Homo sapiens: one gene and its partners. The protein of the gene in region 3 interacts with the protein of the main gene of each other region in a biochemical or structural test. Each region holds a gene or a part of one and is shown on either strand. Other genes may lie near its edges.

The links.
Region 1: the proteins of CHEK2 (region 3) and FHL1 form a complex in vitro, tested with the Homo sapiens proteins (one study listed by BioGRID).
Region 2: the proteins of CHEK2 (region 3) and PPP2R5C form a complex in vitro, tested with the Homo sapiens proteins (one study listed by BioGRID and IntAct).
Region 4: the proteins of CHEK2 (region 3) and XRCC1 form a complex in vitro, tested with the Homo sapiens proteins (one study listed by BioGRID and IntAct).

The regions. Positions count from the first base shown.
Region 1 is NC_000023.11:136,199,948-136,207,199, reverse strand, and holds part of FHL1 (four and a half LIM domains protein 1), read right to left. Parts: intron 2,299-7,252; exon of another isoform or gene 2,261-2,298; intron 794-2,260; coding exon 612-793; intron 185-611; coding exon 10-184; intron 1-9.
Region 2 is NC_000014.9:101,925,506-101,928,526, forward strand, and holds the end of PPP2R5C (serine/threonine-protein phosphatase 2A 56 kDa regulatory subunit gamma isoform), read left to right. Parts: 3' UTR 1-2,472; downstream 2,473-3,021.
Region 3 is NC_000022.11:28,689,821-28,696,820, forward strand, and holds part of CHEK2 (serine/threonine-protein kinase Chk2), read right to left. Parts: intron 6,054-7,000; coding exon 5,890-6,053; intron 5,423-5,889; coding exon 5,307-5,422; intron 4,298-5,306; coding exon 4,212-4,297; intron 1-4,211. UniProt on the Homo sapiens protein: Serine/threonine-protein kinase which is required for checkpoint-mediated cell cycle arrest, activation of DNA repair and apoptosis in response to the presence of DNA double-strand breaks.
Region 4 is NC_000019.10:43,565,391-43,572,642, reverse strand, and holds part of XRCC1 (DNA repair protein XRCC1), read left to right. Parts: intron 1-7,252. UniProt on the Homo sapiens protein: Scaffold protein involved in DNA single-strand break repair by mediating the assembly of DNA break repair protein complexes. Negatively regulates ADP-ribosyltransferase activity of PARP1 during base-excision repair in order to prevent excessive PARP1 activity.

The DNA of each region.
Region 1 (7,252 bases), on a different chromosome or scaffold from region 3:
AGGCAGTACCTGCCACAATGGCCTTGAAGCACCCCTTGCACTTGGGGGAGTCCTCCCGAGTGGTGCACTTGTTGCACAGGATCTTGTTGTCCTTGGCCACAAAGGTCTCATTGGCCAAGGGGTGAAGGCACTTGGCACAGCGGAAGCAGGTGTCATGCCAGAAGCGGTTCTTATAGTGCACCTCCTGGAAACCAAGCAGACAGGGTGGGCCACCATGAGGGGTGCTGGGGGTGGTGGCAGGAGCCCTCCCATAAGGCTGATTTCCCTGGGACTGACCACTGAGATGACACAGTCCCTTACACCTGGGACTGCCCCACAGTGACTATTCTTATAGGAGGGACGCTGAGGTGAGGATAAAAATCTCACAATTCTTGAAATATTTAGAATGCAATCAAAAGAGCTGGCAAGGGCGCTGGCGCCCATCCAGTCAAGCCCCACATTAAACAGCTCGGGCCACTGTGGCCTGGGGAGTGGAGGAGGCTTCCTTGAGGCCTCAAGGTGGCTGCAGTGATGCTGGGAAATCCTAACAGCCAGCTGCTGCTGCCATGGTTGTGGGCAAAGGACACTCCAAAACCCAGCCCTTCCCATTGGCACATGGGGATGCCCGTTACCTTGGAGTCCGCACCGATGGGCTTGCGGCATTCCACACAGGTGTTGGCACAGAACTTGTCAAAGCATTTCAGGCAGCAGTGGTGGCCATCCTTTTGCACATACTTCTTCCCCTGCAAGGGATCCCTGCAGTAGTGGCAGTCAAACTTCTCCGCCATGGTGCCCACCTTGTAGCTGGAGGGACCTGCGGGGGCAAGCAGACAGGACAAATGACCACAGGAAATGCCCCAGCACCCTGAGCAGTGGCTCCCAGAGGCACCTGCACAATGCTGCCTTGGAGTCCATGGGGTCTGAGGACCAAGACCCAGCTTCCCCTTCAGCCGAGCTGACTACCAGGCACCAAGACAACAGATACTTCACTATGATTCCAGGAACAAAAGCACCCCGCGGGGCCAGATGGCCGATGGCTAGTGATTCCCTGGGGAGATGGTAGAAGCCCCTGCTCAGATATATCAACTGTGCTGATTCACAAAAGATGCGGAGCGGGGCAAGTGGATCAGAGCCTGTGTTGGCCAAGTCACCAGATAGGGGACAGGATGCTGGGAGGTATGGCTGAGCAGTGCTATTGTGCCATTGAGCAGTGACCCGATGGAGTGGAGGGGTGTGATGGGGCAGGCAGGCAAGAAGCAGTTGTTTTATACAAAGGAAGAGTGTGGGGCAGAGGCTCAAAGGGGTGCAGGAAAGCAGGGGCCCCGCCTGCAGGCAGCAGCTTCTCTAAGCCCACCACGTTGTCATCAAGAAGCCTCTCTGCCCGCTTTCAGCTCTTCCTCCGTCTCTTTTTAGGGAGGGTAGTATCCTCTGGAGGCCTCCCGTTCCTCCTATCTATAAAATTCTATTCATCAGAATAGAAACTGACAGCTCATTCTGTACCACACCAGGTACCTAAGCAATCCTTGTTAATTTGTTTAAAATGTTTAAATTTACTTGCAATTTAGCAGAAAAGTGTTAAATCCCTGAATAGATCCTAAAGAGTTTTGTCCAAGAGAGTTTACTGCCTTTTGAGGCCAGAGCAATATAGCAAGAGAGGACTTATATAAATGGCTTTGTCAATTGGCACAGGCAAGTTTGGCAACCTTGAATTATCTGTCATAGTCACGGGTGGCTTTGTGACCAAAATCAAACCCTCCCTTGAGTCAAGCAAGTGAGAATCAATATGCTCATAGAAGTGTAACCAGTATTACCATTTGGGATATTTGCTGTCTTAAAAATTATAATCTTAAAATAGAGTCTGGAAAAAATTATTCCAAGAATCCCTTCCACTCCCTCCGTATGAACAACCCCTCTTCCCTCCCTGGTCCCCTCCCCGGCTGTGGCCCTAGACAACACGCCTGCAATCCCAAGCATTACTAAGGCACTCTGCAGCTCCCTTTGCCAAGGCATTTCCTATAGAATCCTGCCACCCAAAAGGTACCAAATATGAGTTTCTATTAGCTTTCAACTTCTTTAAACATATGCTAATTTGTTCCTCTCCCCCGAAAAAGAAATTTGCACGGGTAAATAGATAGCAATTATTTCATTTGTGCAGGAAATACAAGAATTGAGACTACTTTCTAAAACTATCCACAAACATGGTTATTGTGCTAGCAAACTTCCAGCGTAATTTAGAGAGAAAGAATGAGAGAAAATAAATGAGCAGTTGCCTGGTACTCACCGCAGCTCTTCCACTAACTGAAAGCCCCAAAGTCTCACTTTGGGTTCCATTCCCAGGTTTTTTTTATACAAACACATGTCCAAGTTATTTGGATCTTGTTGCCATGAGCAACCAAACAGCAGAGAGTGAGCTAAGGAAACCACACCCTGTGTTTGAGAAGCCGCCTGGGCAAAGGCTGTTGAACTCTCACTCAGAACCAAGCCTCCAAACAAAGGAAATCAGGCCACTGGATGAGCCACAGGGCCTTCTGCCTCCTGCTGACACACAGACCCCCCTCATCTCTAAGGAGCTGGCAGATGAAGCAGATGAGTGACATTCTTGTGCAAGGACAGTTGCTTAGGACAGTTGTGTCACAATTAAGAGACTTAGCAAGACCAGAGAATGGTTCTAACTTGAACTTTTCTCTAAAAAGCAAACTGGGATGTTTCTTTATATAATGGGTTAGAAACAAAAACTAGAGACGCAATGGACACAGGGCCTATCTCCTTGAACTATGTACTGTTTAGGTAAGGAAGCTTTTAAACTGCTTTTAGCCTGTGTGTCTACAGAGAAAAGTACCTGTCCCAGTGACAGCATATGGAAAATCACTCTCTTTAATCCATTCTTGTTGGTCTTTCCAGTGTCACACAGAAGCCTCGTCTTAGCTTTGCCATACTGATAATATTGTGCCCTCAACAAAGACTTGCTTTCTTGTTAAGGGCTGAGTTGAGAAACCAAATAAATCTCCAGTAACGGCAAGTGGCAAGAAATAAATTATCAGTTGCTCCTAAATGCCATTTGGCAGGAAAACAGAATTTGTAAGATTAGACAGCACTGGCTTCCTGCATGGCTAGTAACCATTGCTGGTTTAGCCTTTCAGAGACTATCTTCTGGACCATATTTGAAAATCCCTCATTCTCTCTTACCAAGGTCTCTATTTAGTATACAACTTTGAACCTACTCGTTTTAGTATCACTTGCTTTTGATACCTTTATAAGCAGAAATTGATTCCAAATATTTCTAAGTTAAAGTACTATATAAAGTTCCACCTAAGGTGAGTCAAACCTCTTAGTATTTGAGTCCTAGCTTTATGGTAAGAAATACAGGTTAACTAGTGTCATACCAAAGAAAAAACACTAGAAAACACAATGAATGCCATTTAGAAGTAGAGGTTTTGAAGAGAAGGAAAACTGCATTATGGTTCAAAGTACCTGAGAGATCTTAACTGCCATGTTTTTCACACTTTAAAACCACACACTTTCAGTACTTTGATATTACCAGTGCAAAGTTCTTCATTGTTTAGTCTCATAGTTCTAGAACATGACTTGCTCAGAGTTCTAAGCATCCAGATGATAAAATAATCCACAGCTCACCAGTGAAGATAGAAGTAACAAAGGGTGTTGAAAATGTCAGACAATGAAGTCACTGGCCACTGTATCATTCCTATAGTACATGGTCTTAAACCAAGCAAAAGGAAAATTAAATGAATCAACCCCAAGTTAATAGTACCCATAAGAAGAGTTTCATCTCTTGGTATTTTTGAATCCTAGCTTTAGGCAAGATTTTTTCACTCTGAGTTTGAAAACTCTAGGGTCACCTTACACCTTAGATTCCCCACCACTCTATACTTAAACCTGCAGTCTGTATCCAGATGGAGAATCATTTCAAAGGGCATATTCTTTTAGAATACATTTCTACAATTCACTTGAGTCCTTTTAATGTGTGTGGAAACAATTAGTCTAGATAAAATAGGCACTTCTAGGAATGTTGGATTTGTTGCATAATAAGTAAACAGGCTAGAAATACTTAAAGTATGTTAACAATGTCTATGTCAAATTCATGAACTTTCGTATTTGTTTTGCAATAAATCAAATTAAGTGGAACTCTGGGCAACCTGAATTAGCTTACGTCACGTACTTCTAAATTTATGATTATTTGTTACAAAACAATTTCAAACCCTCATGCACGCAGTGTGCTCAGGATGAAGTTGGAGGAGATACTGATCACGTCACAATTTTGTATAAAATATGAATGATGTGCTGATGTGCACAAGACCAAAACAACTCTAAAAAGCCAGCTTATAAATGACAATGCTGAGACACACATGCAAAGATCCTGAGTGTGGGCTCCCTGAGTCTGAGCTACTATCAAGCTTTGACTTCATGAGGAGAGAAAAGCTTGCTCTTTCTTTCTTTCTTTTTTATTTTAGACGGAGTCTCGCTCTGTCACCAGGCTGGAGTGCAGTGGCGCAATCTTGGATCACTGTAACCTCTGCCTCCTGGGTTCAAGTGATTCTCCTGCCTCAGCCTCCCGAGTAGCTGGAACTACAGGCATGTGACACCACACCCAGCTAATTTTTGTATTTTTAGTAGAGACAGGGTTTCACCATGTTGGCCAGGATGGTCTCGATCTCCTGACCTCATGATCCACCTGCCTTGGCCTCCCAAAGTGCATTTTACAGGCGTGAGCCACCGCACCTGAGATTACAGGGGTTACAGGCATGAGCCACCGCGTCCATCCCAGCTTGCACTTTCTTTTGTTTGAAATGAGAGAATAGGGAAAAATGAAGATAGCATTTTACCTCTTTGTTGTTGTTGAGACAGGGTCTCGCTCTGTCACCCAGGCTGAAGTGCAGTGGTGCTATCCTGGCTCACTGCAACCTCCACCTCCTGGGTTCAAGCAATTCTCCTACCTTAGCCTCCTGAGTAGCTAGGACTATAGGTGAATGCCACCACGCCTGGCTAATTTTTGTATTTTTAGTAGAGACGGGGTTTCGCCATGTCGGGCAGGCTGGTCTTGAACTCCTGACCTCAAGTGATCTGCCCACCTCGGCCTCCCAACTTGATGGGATTGCAGGCATGAGCCACCATGCCCAGCCAGCATTTTACCTCTTCTTTTGGGCTCTCTTCAACCTTACAGAATTACATGTACTTAGGCATTTATTTCTTAGGGAATAATTTTTTATCCCCTTAGCTATTTCTAAGTACATGAAATGTGAAGGCCTTTAATCTTCCAGAACTTCTAGATATGTCTGCCTTGACCTATTGCTGTTATCCGGGAATGGGAGTGTCAGCCATCATTGAAGGAAACAATTGCTACACATCATCACCATGCTTCTTCCCTTACCACTTGTCTTTGTGGAGGGCATGTTTGCCCTCGGGCAGCTCTTTGACTAATTTTAATGTCTCGGTGTAGCCCTCATCTGTACATAGTAGGGATGCCAGAGTAGGTATTAGACATGAGCAGGGCAAGAGAGGGCCCCCCACCCAACCAGGAATGTCAGGCGGCCATCAGGTGAAGGTCAGATGGTTGTTAAACTATCTCTCGCTAAAATAATAATTGGTTGCAGCTGGCACCAAGGAAACACGGTCCCTAATAGACAGAAACACCTGAAACTGATGCTCAGCCACGTCCCCATGAGATCTCAGGAGGTGGGTAATTGGGCTCAAGCATGTGCACTAAGAGGCAAAATTGCGGTGTTTAACTGGTATAAGACCTACCTCTGGGAATGCTCTACTGCTAAGGGAAAAATCGCTTAAAGTAAGCATGCACACAACTTCAGTAAACACCACGCATGCGGCACTTCCCAAGTGCTGGCAGGCCACTGGGCATGCGGACAGCCCACCCCAAGGGAAGAATCAGGAGAGAAGTAATATAACACCCGAATCATGCCAACATATAAAAGCCCAGGTCAAAGGTCAAACCATGCACTTTTTGAATCTCTCAAGTAGCCTGCTTGGTCATCTTCTAAATGTACTTTACTTTCATTCCTGCTCTGAAACTTTATTTTATTTTTTGAGACGGAGTCTCACTTTGTCACCCAGGCTGCAGTGCAATGGTGCAATCTCTGTTCACTGTAACTTCCGCCTCCCAGGTTCAAGCAATTCTCCTGCCTCAGCCTCCCAAGTAGCTGGGATTACATGCGTGCACCACCAAGCCTGGCTAATTTTTGTATTTTTAGTAGAGACAGAGTTTCAGCATGTTGACCAGGCTGGTCTCCAACTCCTGACCTCAAGTAATCCACCCGCCTCAGCCTCCCAAAGTGCTGGCATTACAGGCATGAGCCACCGTGCCCGGCCTCCTGCTCTAAAAGTTTTTAATAAACTTTCACTCCTGCTCTAAAAGTTGCCTTGGCTTCTCCCTCTGCCTTGTTCTTCCTTGAGGAGGCAAGAAATGAGGTTGCTACAGACCCACAGATTCCCCGCTGCTAACATACTTTGGTGCCGAGTGACTTGGATACATTCCCTAGTGCTAACAAGTGGGGTTTCTCTATGACAGAAAGTTCTGCTCATACACTAGGGGGCCCCAGTACCTAATCCAGGGCTTTGTATACAGGAATCACTCAGTATATGCCTGTTGATTGACAGATGGAGATATGTTACCACAACTAAGTTTCTAAAACTTTGGTATGTGGATAGTCACTGAAAGTGGCTTCTGATCCAATTATCTGAGCCTCTATTTTGTCCATACCAACCCTATTTCAGGACCACACTGATTTCCTTTCTGTAAGGACTTCTTTCTTGGGCCTATTCTCCTCTGCTTTCATGGACTTATGAACCTAATGCAATATGACATACTATTTCCTGATTTTAAAAATCATCTTATATGACGTGTAAGGTGCTGAAGTCTAACCTACACCTTAGGTCCACATAAATGTCCCCTGATTTTCTAAGACAGAAAGCATCATTATTAAATAATTTAATTAAAAATTAACTAAATTAAAGTTTTACAAGCTTAGAATACAGTTAGAAATGTGGCTGGGTGATAAAATTTTAGACATTTATTCCAAAAGGGTAGCCTGACTTTCTATGCCTGCTTCAAAAGACACATCATTTTCACTTAATAAACAAGCTTCCTTTTTCAGAAAATTCTTGAACTACATCCAACATGCTGAGAGGTGCCTAAATAAACCTCAGTATCTTAATTAAAAGTTTTGGCTTTCAATTTAATCATGTACACATACAAGTAATATAACATTACAACATTTGTTTTTTTCTTTTTTCTTTTTTACTA
Region 2 (3,021 bases), on a different chromosome or scaffold from region 3:
CCACCCCAGCGTAGTCCAAGTCAGACTATTTCACAAAGTCAGAGCGATAGGAAAGCACCCTGCCCTTCATCTTCATGTTCTCCCAAATGGAACTTAGGATCTTTTAACATAGGTGGTTCTGTGATAACATCAGTGTTTTCCAAATCAAAGGAACGCTTTAAAAAATAGGACCTATTTTTTAAGACTTTACAGCCTTTGAAATGGTTTCCACGTGATTGTTACGCCAGCAGTTCTCGTTTTGTTTGTTTTTCAATCTCAGTGAAATGGCTCTTTGCTTTCGAGTTCTCACGCAACGTACTGGGCAAATGACAATCCTCAGCCGCTGGTATTTTCTAAGGGGTCTCTTCACTTTGATGAGTGACATGAACACCGTGTCTCCTTCTCTTGTGTGTACCTAAAGCCATATTTCCAAGTCTGTGGTACTCCAGGATTCCAGGAGTAAGCCTGTAGAAGAGATTTATTTTAAAAGAGATTGCTCTGAAATTTATCTTAAAAGAGCTTGCTCTGTCTACCTTGACAGAAATTGGAGTTTTAAAATTATGTGTTAATATTTTTATTTGCAGATTTCGTTTCCGTCAACTTAAACATTGTTGCCCTTCAACAAGGCTCTTGAATTAATAAAATTATAGTCTCTAAGAATTCCACATTTTATGGAAAGTTAGAGCAAAATCATTTTGAGTTAAGCCAGTTCTTAGCCTAATGCAAACTGCAGCGCCTTTAAGCATAAAGTAACACAACAGCATTGCACGGGGCCGGCACTGCCGCTGCCTTCACTGAAGGCTGCAGTGCTGTTCTGAGAGCTTGGAGGAGGCACCAGCGAGGATGACGTTTAGTGGAGCTCTTTCTGTTGAAAAGAGCTCACGTTATCAACACCTTGTAAGGAAAATACAGTGTCTGAGTTTTCATCGGTCTTCACATGCTGCTATATATTCCACAGAGTTCCTTGCATGTACTGAGCTTTTGTTTTAGATGGAATAGCACAAGGAGAAAAATCTTTAAACTTAGTGCTTTGTCTATTCTTTATTTCTCTCAGGGTGGCCAGTATTTTGACTTATTTATCCTGCTTGAAAGCTACTTGAGATGTGTACTGCTATTCTAAACACGTGATCTAGTTTCTTTCATCTCTGGCATAAGATTATATAACTTAATGTTAAGTGTCTTGAGGCATAAAAGACAAAATGTGGCTTATTTTAGGATCTGTTTTTTCATCGAGGTCTCGGGTATCCTTTCAAAGATAGTGAGAAGCAGACACTGCTCCTTGTGCAGCTCTGGTACCTCCTGCCCACTGCTGTCACTTCAAGCCACTGGCAATGCTTCTGTCCTCGTGTCTTGGAGGAAAATCACCTGGGGGGAGGGGACTTCTTGTGGTAAGAGCAAGTGCAGGTATGAAATGCGAAGATTGCCCCAGCTAAAAGTGGACAAGTCCGCTTTGTGAGATGAATACTTCCTGAGAAACTTGACAAGTATCTCTCCATTTTACCATTATGAAAACTATCATTAAAAAAAACAGTTTAGATGCCTTCTCCTTTTGAGGGAAAAAGGGTGCTTTTTATTGTATAAAGCAGCGTCTTATGTATTTTGATATACCATTGTTTGAACTTCCGTCTTTAGCTGATAGATTCTCAAATATCCTTGATTTTGGATGTTCAGTATGTTTGTGAGAGAGGTTTCTGGGAAGACTCTCTTTTTGCCCTCGGGAAAAAGCAAAATATCAATGTTTGGGTGACTGTGTAAAGCTCAGTGTGTAAGAACATCTTTTTGTCTAGGTTTTCTTTCTGCTCTTTATTGAAGACAAACACTCACCAAAAAGAAAAATAAAAGTTTTCAGAGAAACTAATTTTCTTTGGCAAGAGTATTACTTAATATTTTGGCCTCCTAAAGTTTCCCTAGTTAGTACTCGGACTCCTGTGCTAATTGTCAGCTTACATATCATTGTATAGAGACTGTTTATTCTGTACCAAACTGATTTCAAAAGTACTACATTGAAAATAAACCGGTGACTGTTTTTCTTCATAAAGTTCTGCGTTTGGCATCTTCACTCTTTCCAAAATGTATCTGTACATCAGAAATGTCACTATTCCAAGTGTCTTTTTAGTGTGGCTTTAGTATGGCTTCCTTTTAATATTGTACATACATTGTATCTTTGTTTTATGGTAATAAGTAATAAAAATGTAGACTTCATATTTTGTACAAAATGTCCTATGTACAGAATAAAAAAGTTCATAGAAACAGCAAATATAGGTAAGTGGCACAATTATTTTTCTTTAGAAAATATCTGTAACTTTATGCATTAGTGAAATGTTAAGTACCGACATATTTTTTAACATTTTGTAATTCAAAACTTTTTGTTTTGACATTGTTTATGAAGAGAAACTTCATACACTTGCCATTTAATATGCTCTTTTATCTAATTTTCAAAAACTCTAAAAAACGGTGTATCATATGGACTAAATAAAGAACATGTGAATTTTATTGCTCATCATGAAACTAAATTTAGCCATGGTGTTGAGCAAGCTGGCTCTGACGTTATCGGGTTCCCGTTAGGTCAGGGCCGCCCACACACAGGGACGCTGACTGCAGAGGGGCTGGCCATCTCCATCCAGCCCGCCTGGAGCGCTGGCTGCGCCAGATGCTAGCCACAGCTGTTCAAAGCTAAGTCTATCCACTGATTTTTTTACTTACTTAGTGGAAAAGGCAGTGTGACTTTTTATAGACCGCCTCTTGGTTTGGTTTGGGTTTTGGGGCTTTTTTTGAGTAAGAAAAGGTGAATCAATACAATTTATAGAAATGAAAGTCTTGAAAATAGGGAATTGCTGAAAGTATGAATTTAGGATCCTAGTTCGCCCACCTCCTCCTCAGTGGAGAGATCATTATCCTCGCTGATGCTCTTGCGAGAAGCCCATGGAAACAGGACTAAAGTGTTATCTGCTCGTGTCGTGGTTATAACCTCACCTCTCCATAGCTGCGTGTGGTCAGCACGCCGGCTGGCGTGGGAGGGCAAGCTCTGTGCTTAGCTTCCTT
Region 3 (7,000 bases):
CAGGAGATGAGGAGGGCACAGACAGTGTGTATGCGAGTAGCTCCCACCTCTCTGGATGCTCACTTCTGCAGGGTTCGAGGATTTGCATTAGGAAACCCTGAGAGGTGGTCTGGTGCAGCTCTCCCCATCTTCAGCAAGGTGAAAGGAACATCCATAACTAGGAATGTGGCCTTTGAGTGCTGGCCAGAAGCCCAGCTCAGCCACTCACAGGTGGCATGTGCAGAATACAGACCCAGAGTTATCTGATTCCAGTGCCTCATGTACTTTCCCACCCAACTCCAGCCCCTCCTCCCACTGAGCCAAGCATACCACAGTGGGGAAAGGGAGAGGATACAGTAAAGTCCTCCACCATTTGGCAATTTGATGGATATGGAAATTTTACAACACTAGGTTGGGCATGGTGGCTCATGCCTATAATCCCAGCACTTTGGGAGGCCAAGGTGGGAGAATTGCTTGAGGCCAGGAATTTGAGACCAGCCTGGGCAACATAGTGGGACTTCGTCACTACAAAAAAAATTAAAAATTAGGCCAGGCACGGAGGCTCACGCCTGTAATCCCAGCACTTTGGGAGGCCAAGGCAGGCGAATCGCCTGAGGTCGGAAGTTTGAGATCAGCCTGGCTAACATGGTGAAACCCCTTCTCTACTAAAAATACAAAATAAGCAGGGCATGGTAGTGCACGCCTGTAATCCCAGCTACTCAGGAGGCTGAGGCAGGAGAATCGCTTGAACTCAAGAGGCGGAGGTTGCAGTAAGCCAGGATCACACCACTGCACTCCAGCCTGGGCAAAAGAGTACAACACTGTCTCCAAAAAAAAAAAAAAAAAAATTTAAATTAGCCAGACATGGTGGCATGCACCTGTAGTCTCAGCTACTTGGGAGGCTGGGGCAGGAGGATCACTTGAGCCTGAAAGTCATGGTGCAGTGATCATGCCACTGCACTCCAGCCTAGGTGAGAGAGCAAGACCCTGAGGAAGGAAGAAAGGAAAGAAGCAAGGAAGGAAAAAGGGGAGGGGGGACGAAAGAAGGGAGGGGAAAGGAATGGAGGAGAGGGGAGGGGGAAGGAAGGAGGAAGAAAGAAAGAAGGAAAGAAGGACCAGGCACAGTGGCTCACGCCTGTAATCCCAGCACTTTGGGAGGCCAAGGCAGGGCAGATCACTTGAGGTCACTCTGTTTTGAGTTTCTCAGTGTAGCTCCCCATTGCCATTTGACAGCAGCAAGCTCATCTGGATTCTACTCCGCACCCTCTCACGGCCTTACTTAGGATCTCAATTATCTTGCAGTGTCACTCTCAAAAGTCCATCTCTTGGCAGCCCTTCAGTGAAGCCAAACAGAGTGGTCACAAGCCTAATCAGGCCTGTATTTAAAACAAGTAATCAGGTCAGGCACAGTGGCTCATGCCTGGAATCCCAGCACTTTGGGAGGCCAAGGTGGGTAGATAACCTGAGGTCAGGAGTTCGAGACCAGTCTGACCAACATGGTGAAACCCCATCTCTACTAAAAATACAAAAATGAGCTGGGATGGTGGCAGGCACCTGTAATCCCAGCCACTTGGGAGGCTGATGCAGGAGAATCACTTGAACCCAGAGGTAGAGGTTGCAGTGAGCTGAGATCACACCATTGCACTCCAGCCTGGTAGACAAAAGCAAGACTCCATCTCAAAAAAGGAAATAAATAAATAAACATTGATTTTCTTCATGATGTCTACAATTATTCCAAAATATTAAATTAGCCAGGAACAGTGGCTCGTGCCTATTATCCAAGCACTTTGTGAGGCTGAGGCGGGAGGATCCCTTAAGGCCAGGAGATCAAGGCTGCAGTGAGCTATAATTGCACCAGTGCACTCCAGTTTAGGCAACAGAAGAAGACCTTGTCTCCAACAGTAAATAAAATAAAAATTAAATTGTAATATCCCTTGAAAGTAAACAGAAGAAATCCTCTATTTCAGGCAGTAAATATGAGGCAGAGAGTAGATGTAAGGGATGCTCCCAAAACTGGGCACTCTGTTAATGACAAAACAGAGACCAGAATCCACATTCCCAACACTCAGTTCAGCGACAGACCCACAAAACCATTTGGTTTTTTCAAAAACACTGAATTTTCCCAAAATAAAACCCAAACTATCACTAACAGATGTTTTAGATGGTCAGTCTTCATCCTTGTCTTCATTCAATGCTCATTCCTCCTTTCACTGCAAAAACAAAAGGTGGCTAAAAGAGTATTCCAGGGAGATCCTGCAACAGAGTTGAACTTCACCTTCTCCTTGGTTGTTAATAAGTTTTCTTTGACACAAAAAAGTACAAGAAAGATAGGCTATGCTTGCTCATAAATTTCAGGCAGATGCAAACCCTGTTCCCAGGCTCAACTGGCCAGCTCTATTTTTTGTTAGAGATGAACACAGCTCCTGTACCTCTACATTTAGACCCAAGAGTTTCCCTATTAGGACACATGAAAAGAGCCAAAAGACATGTTTCTCTTTTTCATCAAAATTAAAATCCCCACATGCAAAGGCACCCTTTGTTTCCAAACCCCTTTCCTCCAGGGTCCCACTGTTTCAAATCTGTGTGGTCTATTAAATGCTAAATCATCTGACAGATTTCTTCTGGGGAGACTGTAGTTTCCAGGGCAACATCCAAACACATATATGTCTTTTTTTGTTTGTTTGTTTGTTTGTTTTAAGTTTTTGTTGTTCTCAACCTGAGCTGGCCTGAGCAAAACTGTTAGGTGTAGAGGATTGGAACAGAGAACAGGGACAGTCTTCCCAGAGTCCCAGAAGTACGGGTCGGAGGCTGGACTGCCCAAGGAGTTCCTGGACCAGTAATCCCCAGAGAAACAGCATTTAGCTCAAGTAACAGCCTCTAGCTCAAGCTACCAGTTCTGTCCCCCATCTCCACAGAAAACGGATTGATACAGTTTGGCTTTGTGTCCCTACCCAAATCTCATCTCAAATTGTAATCCCCAGGTGTTGAGAAAGGGACCTGTTGAGAGGTGATTGGCTCATGGGGGCAGTTTCCCCCAGGCTATTCTCGTGATAGTGAGTGAGTTCTCACCAGATCTGACAGTTTCATAAGAGGATCTTCGCCCTTCACTTCCTTCACAAGCTCTCTCACCTGCTGCCATTAAGACATGCCTTCTTCCCCTTCCACCATGATTATAAGTTTCCTGAGGCCTCCCCAGCCATGTGCAGCTGTGAGTCAGTTAAACCTCTTTTCTTTGTAAATTACCCAGTCTTGGGCAGTTCTTTATAGCAGTGTGAGAACAGACTAATACACAAACCAAAAAAAAATTCATAGAAAGGGGCATGTCTGTGCTGAATGGAACTGCTCATTACAGAAGACCAGACATCTATCAGAAAAACCTGCCCAATGCCGTGGCTAATTCTAAAACTAAAGATTAACCCAGCAAAGCCACAACATACTTCCAACTCTTGGCAGTTCCAGATGAGGTCAGCATTTAAAAATGGCAGCCCCAACCCCTAGCAGGAGCACAGCGGTAATACAGATGAAAAGTGCAGGTGACAGCCTTCATTAAGGACACATTTACTCACCTGAATGAACAAGCAGTGGGACCCTTTATACCCAGTCACTTGGGCTTGAGAAATAGCTGGATTCTCCCCAGGGAGGCTGTCCTCCTCCCCCTCCCCCACTTCCCTGATTTAAGGTTGAAGATGGCTGGAATGCACCCCACCTATGAAGAGCAGTGGACATGGCTGGGGGTAGAGCCAGAACAAGCACTCAAAAGAACACAGGCCAAACAGGAGACTCGGGGCAGCCAAGTGGAACCAGAACAGGACATAAAGTGAGCGTGTACATCCAACAGCCATGAGTAATATCAAAAAGGTTGTAGCCTGGCCAGCACGGCGAAACCCCATCTCTACAAAAAATACAAAAAGTAGCTGGGCATGGCAGCATGCACCTGTAATCCCAGCTACTTGGGAGGCTGAGGCAGGAGAATCACTTGAACCCGGGGGCCAGAGGTTGCAGTGAGCTGAGATCGTGCCACTGCACTCCAGCCAGGGTGACAGAACAAGAACCTGTCTCAAAAAAAAAAATAAAACAGGTTGTAACCCATCCTCCAAGATACCCCCCATACATCTAAAACAATTAGATTAAACACTCAACAAAGTAAACATGTTTCTGTCCTCTGTCTCATGTCTCTCAGGCAGCAGGGCTTCCCATGTATTTTATGCTAGCAGGCACTGTCCCACACCCACCTGAAGCCACGGGTGTCTTAAGGCTTCTTCTGTCGTAAAACGTGCCTTTGGATCCACTACCAACAACTTCTTGACAAGGTCCAGAGCTAAAGCAACAATTGGGCAAATCACAGTGAAAAGGATAAATATATTATCAGTAAGAGTATGCCAGAATTAACAGGCCACCATTCAGAAAGAGCAGAGAGGGTCTGAGATCATCACGGAGTCAGCAGACAGGGCCCCCTAATCTTCCTCACTCTCTGTATTCAGAGTACTGTGAGAAGACCAGGAATGATAATGACACTCCCTGTCTCCTGCTGCTGGGACGTCAGTCACGACCTCTTCACTGCCTGTTCCCTCTCTTGTTGCTAGACTCAAGGTCGGACTAATTAAAGCTAAACTTCTACCCAATTCTAAGATACTTGGGATGCACAGCAAACTCTCTCTGACATCTACAGATGGATAGGTGACAGTTACTCAGCGAGGGAGAGGCTCCCTGGAACTGCAGACTTGTCAGAAATAAAACTTGGCTACTCCAGCAAGCAACAAATGCACGCTGGCCTGTATATTACAACATTATTATTCCTTAAATATTCTGACATTTAACACAATCACCTATGTTATGTTATTTGACATTTAATTTTCTACTTTCTCTTCAGGGAACTAAAGTTGCCAGGATAAATTATAAAATACAAGGTAACTAATGACATCTAGTTTTTACATGCTTGCTTACTCAAAGGAAACCTTGTAACTAAAAAGTTACAAGTGCATTTATTTTGCTCACTAAAATAGGTACCAGGCACTTGTGTACATGATACTTAACCCTCACAAAAACCTTTTAAGGTAGGGTTTATTGAGGGTCCCTTTACACAGAAAGAAATTGGAGATGGAGGTTAAATAACTTGCCTAAGGCCACACAGCTAAGTAGTAGCAGACCCAGGACCTGAGTGCATGCTCTTAATAATTTCCAGTGCCTCTCAAATGGTGTGAAACTAACAATAGAAAATAAGAACAGAATTGACAGGAGAAAACACCATGGAATTTGGGAAGAAACTCCCACCACAGCACATACACATTTTAGCATACCACAAATTCTTAACCCTTTCATATTCATACCTTTCTCTGAGACTTCTGCCCAGACTTCAGGAATGAAGTTGTATTTTCCACTGGTGATCTGATCCTTCAGTGACACTTGAGTCCTATGCTCAGAGAAAGGTGGATACCCACTAAGGCTTAATATTGGTAGAGAGAGAAAGGAAAAGAAATCAAGTGGCATTCTCAGTGGCATTCAGATATAAAGATTTCTTTTTCAGCATAATGAAAAGTCAGATTTTTCTTTAAATCAATGGTCAAAAAGTGAGCTAGGCTGGGCACAATGCCTTAGGCTTGTAATCCCAGCACTTTGGGAGGCCGAGGCAGGAGGATCACTTGAGCCCAGGAGTTCGAGACCAGCCTGGGCAACATGGCAAAACCCCATCACTACAAAAAATAGAAAAATTAGCTGGGCATGGTGGTGTGCATCTGTAGTCCCAGCTACTCGGGAGGCTGAGGTGGGAGGATCACTTGACCCAGGAGGCAGAGGCTACAGTTAGCCAAGATCAAGCCACTGCATGCCAGCCTGGACAACAGAGCAAGACACATTTGTGACTTCATCTAATCACCTCCTACCAGTCTGTGCAGCAATGAAAATATTTCTTACCAGATAAAAAGAATAACTCCTAAACTCCAGCAGTCCACAGCACGGTTATACCCAGCAGTCCCAACAGAAACAAGAACTTCAGGCGCCAAGTAGGTGGGGGTTCCACATAAGGTTCTCATGAGAGAGGTCTCTCCCAAAATCTTGGAGTGCCCAAAATCAGTAATCTAAAATTCAGTACAAAAGGGAATAATGTTGAACTTGCCATAAAATAAAAAGATTAACATAGTCTGCCAGTCCAAGAAGACACGTAGGCTAGATCAGTTTCTATTGTACAATTCACACCTGCCATTAATCTGGAATTTACAGATTCATGTCTTTGCAAGTTAGGACATTTAATTTTGCTTAAATTAAAATTCCTGAGCCTAGGAATCTCAACACTCAGGCTTTCCAACTTAACCTATGTCCTCTGTAATCTTACAAAAAGCTTATTATCTTTATCACAGACACTTCAGGATTCTAATTAGTTCTACATGGTTCTTAGACCCCAGTGTCTCAAACTTGGCTGCGCTATGGAATACCTGGGGAGCTTGGAAACACATGCTTATACCTGAGTGCCACTCTCAGCTTCTGAGGTAAAGCCTGGGTGTCATAAATCCTAACAAGAGATTCTAAAGTGATGCCAGACTTGAGAAACAGGGAAAGGCAGCGCATGTGATTACTCATTCATTCATTCACCTATTCTGAGATGATGTCTGGCCCTTTTGCACAGGCTGGAGTGCAGTGGTGCGATCTCAGCTCACTGCAACTTCTGCCTCCCAGGTTCAAGTGATTCTCGTGTCTCAGCCTCCCAAGTAGCTGGGATTACAGACACCCACCACCATGCCCAGCTAAATTTTTGTATTTTTTGCCATGTTGGCCAGGTTGGTCTCAAACTCCTGACCTCAGGTGATCTGCCCACCTCGGCCTCCCAAAGTGCTGGGATTACAGGTGTGAGCCACCATACCCAGCCCACTCGTCCATTTAGACCCCTCCTCTCTCTCTAAGCACAAAGGTCACTTGTACACAACAGAGCTCAATAAATGCTCATTCGAATCTGGATAAGAGCAGTATCACCTGATCTCTAAAATAATTGGTAACAGTGAAAGGGTCAGATTCTCATCCTTTTTACGCT
Region 4 (7,252 bases), on a different chromosome or scaffold from region 3:
GTCTTGAACTCCTGACCTCAGGAGTTCAAGGCAAATGAGCACCAAATGCTAATTTAAGTGATCCACCCACCTTGGCCTCCCAAAATGTTGGGATTACAGGCATGAGCCACTGCACCTGACCTCAGTCTTTTAAACTGTGATAGATACAGATTGCTGACAGTTTTAGTCTTGAGATCTAGATTCAAGCCCCCAGCTCTTCCTCTTAATCGGTGACCTCAAGAAAATTGTTTCATTTCTCTAACCTGTTTTCTCATGTGTCCATTGGGAATAATGACATCCAAGCCCGGAGTTGTGAAAATTCGGTGACATAATGTCTGCACAAGTGCTCTGTCAACATGTAGGTGTTTGTGTAGAGGGAGGGATTTGTGTTTTTATTACTTAGTGGGTGATGATTCCACTGGGCTCTCTTATGATCAAGTGACTCCAGGGAAATCACATTTCATTCTGTTACCCCAGTTGCTGTGGAAACAGAGTGACTGGAGGCAGAAGAGACAGAACCTGTCTCTGGCCTGGGAGAGACTGAGGGAGTATTGCAGCGGTCACCAACATGGTAAACCCCAGAGGGAGCAGCTTGGGGAGGTGATGTGTTTCAGTTGGGATGTCCAGGTTTGATGTGACTTTGGGACATTCTAGGGGTGGCATCCAGGAGGCAGTTGGGGATCACATGTGGAGCTGAAGACAGAATGTGGGGAAGTTGTCAGTGCAGAGAAAGAACCTATAGACTCGGGAGTAGATGATGGATTTATTTGTTCATTCACTCATTTATTTAGTCAAGTATTTATTAAGTGCCTTCTGTAGGCCAAGCACTGTTTTAATACAGCAGTACACAGCAGAAGACAAAAAATATTCACTCTCAGTGGGGTGCAGTAAGCTCACGCCTATAATCCCAGCACTTTGGGAGGCCAAGGCCTGGCAGTTCGAGACCAGCTTGGGCAACACAGGGAAACTTCATCTCTACTAAAAATACAAAAATCTGCCAAGCGTGGTGGCCTATGCCTGTGGTCCCAGCTACTCCAGAGGCTGAGGCGGGAGGATCACTTGAGCCTGGAAGATCAAGGCTGTAGTGAGCTATGATCGCACCATTGCGCTCCAGCCTGGGCAACAGAATGAGATGCTGTCTCTTAAAAACAAAAGAAATTCAGTCTTGTGGAGCTTTCACGTTAGTAGGGAAAGACTGACAAATGAGTCAGTGAAACATATGTTGGATGATGAGTGCTATGGAGGAACTTAATGAAGGGGAATGAGAGTGCCCCAGCTGGAGCTGGAGCAGTGGCAAGGATTTTTATTTAAATAGTAGGGTCCGGGAAGGCCTCCCTGAAAAGGGGACATTTGAGCAACATGAGCTATGTATGTATCTAGGGAAAAGACTCTGAAGCTGGCTTGTGACAGCAAGGAGGCCAGTATGGCTGGGGTGGAGTCAGCCAGGGGGAGAGAGGTAGGAGATGAGGTAACAGGGTGGGACTGGGAACCCCTAAAAAACCACTTAAGGCCTGGAAAGCCATTGAAAGGACTTGAGCTTTTACTCCAGGTGTGAGATAGGAGCCACCGGAGGGCTCCGAGCAGAGGAGGGACAGGATCTGCCTTAGGCCTTCACAGGATCCTGCTGGCTCCATGTTGACAATCAACTGCAGGGGCCACACACAGGAGTGGGAGATCAGCATTGCAGCAGTTGTTTTGTTAACTTACTCCACGTCAGAGACCCTTTGGAATGACTGATTGCATCTGGCAATGACTAATTTGTGGGGTTACTCTGGATTCATCAAATGCTAATTTTGATTCTTTTGACGTAACTGATAAAGGCAGACATTTCTGGCCACCAAGGCAGTAGGCTTATCTCTGGGTTGTTATGTTATGTTTTGAGACAGGGTCTCACTCTCTTGCCCAGGTTGGAGTGCAGTTGCAAAGTCATGGCTCACTGTAGCCTCAACCTCCTGGGCTCAGGCAATCCTCCCACCTCAGCCTCCCAGATAGCTGGGACTACAGGCGTGTGCCGCCAGGCCCAGCTAATTTTAAAAATTTTTCGTAGAGATGGGGTCTCACTATGTTGCCCAGCCTGGTCTCGGACTCCTGAGCTCAAGCAGTCCTCCTGTCTTGGCCTCCCAAAGTGCTGGCATTACAGGCATGAGCCACTGCACCTGGCCACATCTGTGGGTTCTTCTACTACCCTGCATTTTCTCCTCTAATTATTGTTATGCAAAATCTCGATCTTACCACATGGGGCTTAGCCATCTGCTTATGACAGCCCCACACACCTGGTTGTTTGCAGTAGCCACAGCAGGCTCTGTTGTCTGTTCATCACCTGCTCCCAGAGGGAAATGCCAACCTCTTTGCTAACTACTCCTGGGCTGGAGGGGTGGCTTGGACAAGACCCAGATATAACTCTGGTGTGTCACTGGAGGTGTGTCATTTTTAGAAGAAATGTTCATCAGCAATAGGGCCTATGGTCATTTTTGATTGTTATTGGTTTTCTAATCACTCAGTTCGCCACTGTGGTGTCTTAAATTTGTTTTTACTGTTTTTTGATGTGTAACATACATAGAGTGAAGTGAAGGTGTAAGTAAGAGTACAGCTCAGTGACTCTTTGCAAACTGCAGCCCTGTGTACTCCACACCCAGATGCAGCACAGAACATGCCTAGCCCCCAGCAGTTCCCTCAGGTTCTTTCTGTCAGTACCCCTGCAAGGGTAACCACTGTCCTGATTGTTAACAGCATAGATTCATTTTGCCTGATTTTGAATTGCATATAAAATGGAATCGTGTGGTATAAACTTTTCTTATCTGGCTTCCCTTGTTATGTTTGTTCATTTCATCTATGTCGTTCAGTGTAGCTGTAGATGATTTATTGTGATTTTTTTTTTTTCTGAGACGGAGTTTCGTCTTGTTGTTCTGGCTGGAGTGCAATGGCACAATCTCAGCTCACTGCAACCTCCGCCTCCCAGGTTCAAGTGGTTCTCTTGCCTCAGCCTCCCAAGTAGCTGGGATTACAGGCATGCACCACCACGCCTGGCTAATTTTTTGTATTTAGTAGAGACAGGTTTTCACCATGTTGGTCAGGCTGGTCTCGAACTCCTGACCTCTAGTGATCCACCTGCCTTGGCCTCCCAAAGTGCTGGGATTACAGGCATGAGCCACTGTGCTCGACTCCTATTGTCTTTTTTTTTTTTTTTTGAGACAGGGTCTCACTATGTTGCCCAGGCTGGAGTGCAGTGGCACCATCTCAGCTCACTACAGGCTCGACCTCCCGGGCTCAAGCGATCCTCCCACCTCAGCCTCCTCAGTAGTTGGGACTACAGGCATGTGCCAGTTCACCAGTCTAATTTTTGTATTTTTTTTGCAGAGATGGGGGTCTCACTGTGTTGTCTAGGCTGGTCTTGAACTCCTGGACTCAAGCATTCCTCCTGCCTCAGCTTCTTAAATCCTTGGGATTACAGACATGAGCCACTGCACCTGGCCTATTGTCATTTCTGTATAGTATTCTGTTGTATTGAGATAACTATTATGGTTTTATTTATTTATATTTGATTTTCTTTTTTAAACGGAGTCTCACTATGTTGCCAAGGCTGGTCTTGAACTGTTGATCTCAGGTGATCCCCCAACTTGGCCTCCTGAGTAGCTAGGACTATAGGTGCACACCACCACACCCAACTAATTTTTTTTTTTTTTTTTAAGCTTTTTGGAGGCAGCTTCCTGAGTAGCTGGGATTACAGGGATTACAGACAGAGCCACAAAGACCTGGCCATTGGGGTTTTATTATATTTGCTTTCTGAATGGGTATTATATGCATATAGTGCAAAATTCAAAAGGTGCAAAAGGGTATACACTAAAAAGAAAATCTCCCCTCACCCTTTCCATCCCTCCCTGCTCCCTCCCCAACTCCTGCTCCCTCCCCAACTCCTGCTCCCTCATTCTTCTCTCCTGATGCAACCACCATTAGCAGTTTTTTTGGGTGGTCTTCCTGGGTCATTCTGTACACATACAAGCATATATACCTACCGCCTCCATCCCTTTTTAAAAAATTCATAGTATATACACTGTTCCCTTGTGTGTTTTTTTTCAAGTAACAGTGTATTTTGGAGATGCACACTGCATGAAGTTCTACCTTATTTATTTATTTATTTATTTACTTACTTACTTACTTACTTACTTTGAGACAGAATCTCGCTCTGTCACTCAGGCTGGAGTGTAGTAGTGCGATCGTGGCTCACTGCAACCTCCCCCTCCCAGCTTCAAGTGATTCTCCTGCCTCAATCTCCCTAGTAGCTGGGATTACGGGCACATGCCACCAGGCTTGGCTAATTTTTGTATTTTTGGTAGAGATGGGGTTTCCCCATGTTAGCCAGGCTGGTCTTGAATTCCTGACCTCAAGTGATCCTCCTGCCTTGGCCTCCCAAAGTGTTGGGATTACAGGCGTCAGCCACGCCGTGCGCAGCCTACCTTATTCTTTTAAATGATGCATACAATTGCATTTCATGGCCGGGCGCGGTGGCTCACGCCTGTAATCCCAGCACTTTGGGAGGCTGAGGCAGGTGGATCACGAGGTCAGGTGTTCAAGACCAGCCTGGCCAAGATGGTGGAACCCTGTCTCTACTAAAAATATAAAAATTAGCCAGGTGCAGTGGTGGGCACCTGTAATCCCAGCTACCTGGGAGGCTGAGGCAGGAGAATTGTTTGAACCCGGGAGGCGGAGGTTGCAGAGAGCCGAGATCGTGCCACTGTACTCTAGCCTGGGTGACAGAGCAAGACTCTGTCTCAAAAAAAAAAAAAAAAGAAAAGATTGCATTTCATGGATGTGAAACAGTTTTTTAGCAATATATCTCAGGAACTTTGCCTTCCTGTGCCATGTTTGTTTCAGGAACAGTTCATATCAGAACTGTGTCTCCCTGAGAAAGCTGCATGCACACGAACCCAGGCCATCGGTGATAGTCATCTTGTGCTCTTATCCTCACAGCTGATACATACTGAGCACTCATCTCTTATTTTGAGAAAAATTCACATAAAATTTACTGTTTTAACCATTTAAAGTGCACATTTCAGCCAGATGCGGTAGCTCACACCTGTAATCCCAGCACTTTGGGAGGCCAAGGCGGGTGGATTGCTTGAGGTCAGGGATTCGAGACTAGGCTGGCCAACATGGTGAAACCCCATCTCTACTGAAAATACAAAAATTAGCCGGGGGTGGTGGTGCGTGCCTGTAGTCCCAGCTATTCGGGAGGCTGAGGCAAGAGAATCACTTGAACTGGAAGGCAGAGTTTGCAGTGAGCTGAGATTGCACCACTGCACTCCAGCCTGGGCAACAGAGTGAGACTCCGTCTCAACAAAAAACATAAATAAATAAATAAATAAAGTGCACATTTCAGGGTTTTTTTTTTTTTTTTAGCATATTGACAATGTTCTTCAACCATCTCCATTCTCTAATTCAGAATATTTTCATCACTCCAAAAAGAAACCACATAACCATTAAACAGTCACTTCTTATTCTCTCCCCAATGTTGCCCTTGGCAACCACTGATCTACTTTCTGCTTCTCTGGATTTGCGTATTCTGGACTTATAAATGTATACGTGGTCTTTTACACTTAACCTTGTTACACTTTGCATAATGTTTCTGAGGTTCATCCATGTTGTAGCATATATCACAACTTCAGTTTTTTAAATAACTGGATGATATTCCATAAATATACTGTACAATGTTTATCTATTCATCAACTGATGGACATTTATTGGGTTGTTACCATGTATATATAAACCTTTTTTTTTTTTTTTTTTTGAGATTGAGTCTTGCTCTGTTGCCCAGGCTGGAATGCAGTGGTGCAATCTCGGCTCACTGCAACCTCTGCTTCCCAGGTTCAAGTGATTCTCGTGCCTCAGTCTCCTGAGTAGCTGGGACTACAGGCGCATGCCACCATGCCCAACTAATTTTTCTGTTTTTAGTAGAGACGGGGTTTCGCCGTGTTGCCCAGGTTGGTCTTGAACTCCTGGGCTCAAGAAATCCACCTGCCTTGGCCTCCCAAAGTGTTGGGATTACAGGCGTGAGCCACCACCCCAGCCTCCATGTATAAACATTTTTATCAGATTCTTAAAAAGTATTTATTTACTTTTTTTTTTTTTTTTTTTGAGACAGAGTCTTGCTCTGCCACCCAGGCTGGAATGCAGTGGCATGATCTTGGCTCACTGCAACCTCCGCCTCCTGGGTTCAAGCAATTCTCTGCCTCAGCCTCCCGAGTAGCTGGGATTACAGGCGCCTGCCACCATGCCTGGTTAATTTTTGTATTTTTACTAGAGACGGGGTTTCACCCTCTTGGCCAGCCTGGTCTTGAACTCTCCTGACCTTGTGATCTGCCAACCTCTGCCTCCCGAAGTGCTAGGATTACAGGCCTGAGCCACCGTGCCTGGCCACTTTTTTTTTTTTTTAGATGGAGTCTCACTCTGTCACCCAGGCTGGAGTGCAGTGGCATGATTTCGGTTCGCTGCAACTTCTGCCTCCCAGGTTCAAGTGATTCTCTGGCCTCAGCCTCCTGTGTAGCTGGGATTACAGGTGCACGCCACCAAGTCTGGCTAATTTTTATATTTTTAGTAGAGACAGGGTTTCACCATATTGGTCATGCTGGTCTTGAACTCCTGGCCTCAAGTGATCTGCCTGCCTTGGCCTCCCAAAGTGCTGAGATTACAGGTGTGAGCCACTGTGCCCAGCCTGTTGTTTTCTCTCTTGAGACAGAGTCTCACTTTATCACCCAGGCTGGGGTGTAGTGGCTCGTCTCAACTCACTGCAACCTCCACCTCCCAGGTTCAAGTAATTCTTGTGCCTTAGCCTCCTGAGTAGCTGGGATTATTGAGGTGCGTGTCACCACACCCAGCTAACTTTTTTTATTTTTGGTAGAGACAGGGTTTTGCTATGTTGGCCAGGCTGGTCTCGAACTCCTGGCCTCAAGTGATTCTCCCGCCTCCACCTCCCACGGTGCTGGGATTACAGGCGTGAGCCAGTGCTCCTAGCCAGGACTTTTTTTATATACAAAGAAGAAATGTCAGGGAGTGCCTGTTTAAAGTAGAAATAGTTATATATGCAGTAGGAATTGTTCATTTAAAATACAAGCATCTCCATCCTACCACATTTAGGAGCTATGCTGAATATTGTGGGAGAGGTAAAGATGTTGAGTTTGACTCAGGGATGGAAAGAAAGGAGTTGAGAACAGTGGTGGTATTGGACAGTGCTTTGCAGTCAGGCAGTTGCGTCCGAAGTACTCTGCTAGTTATTAGC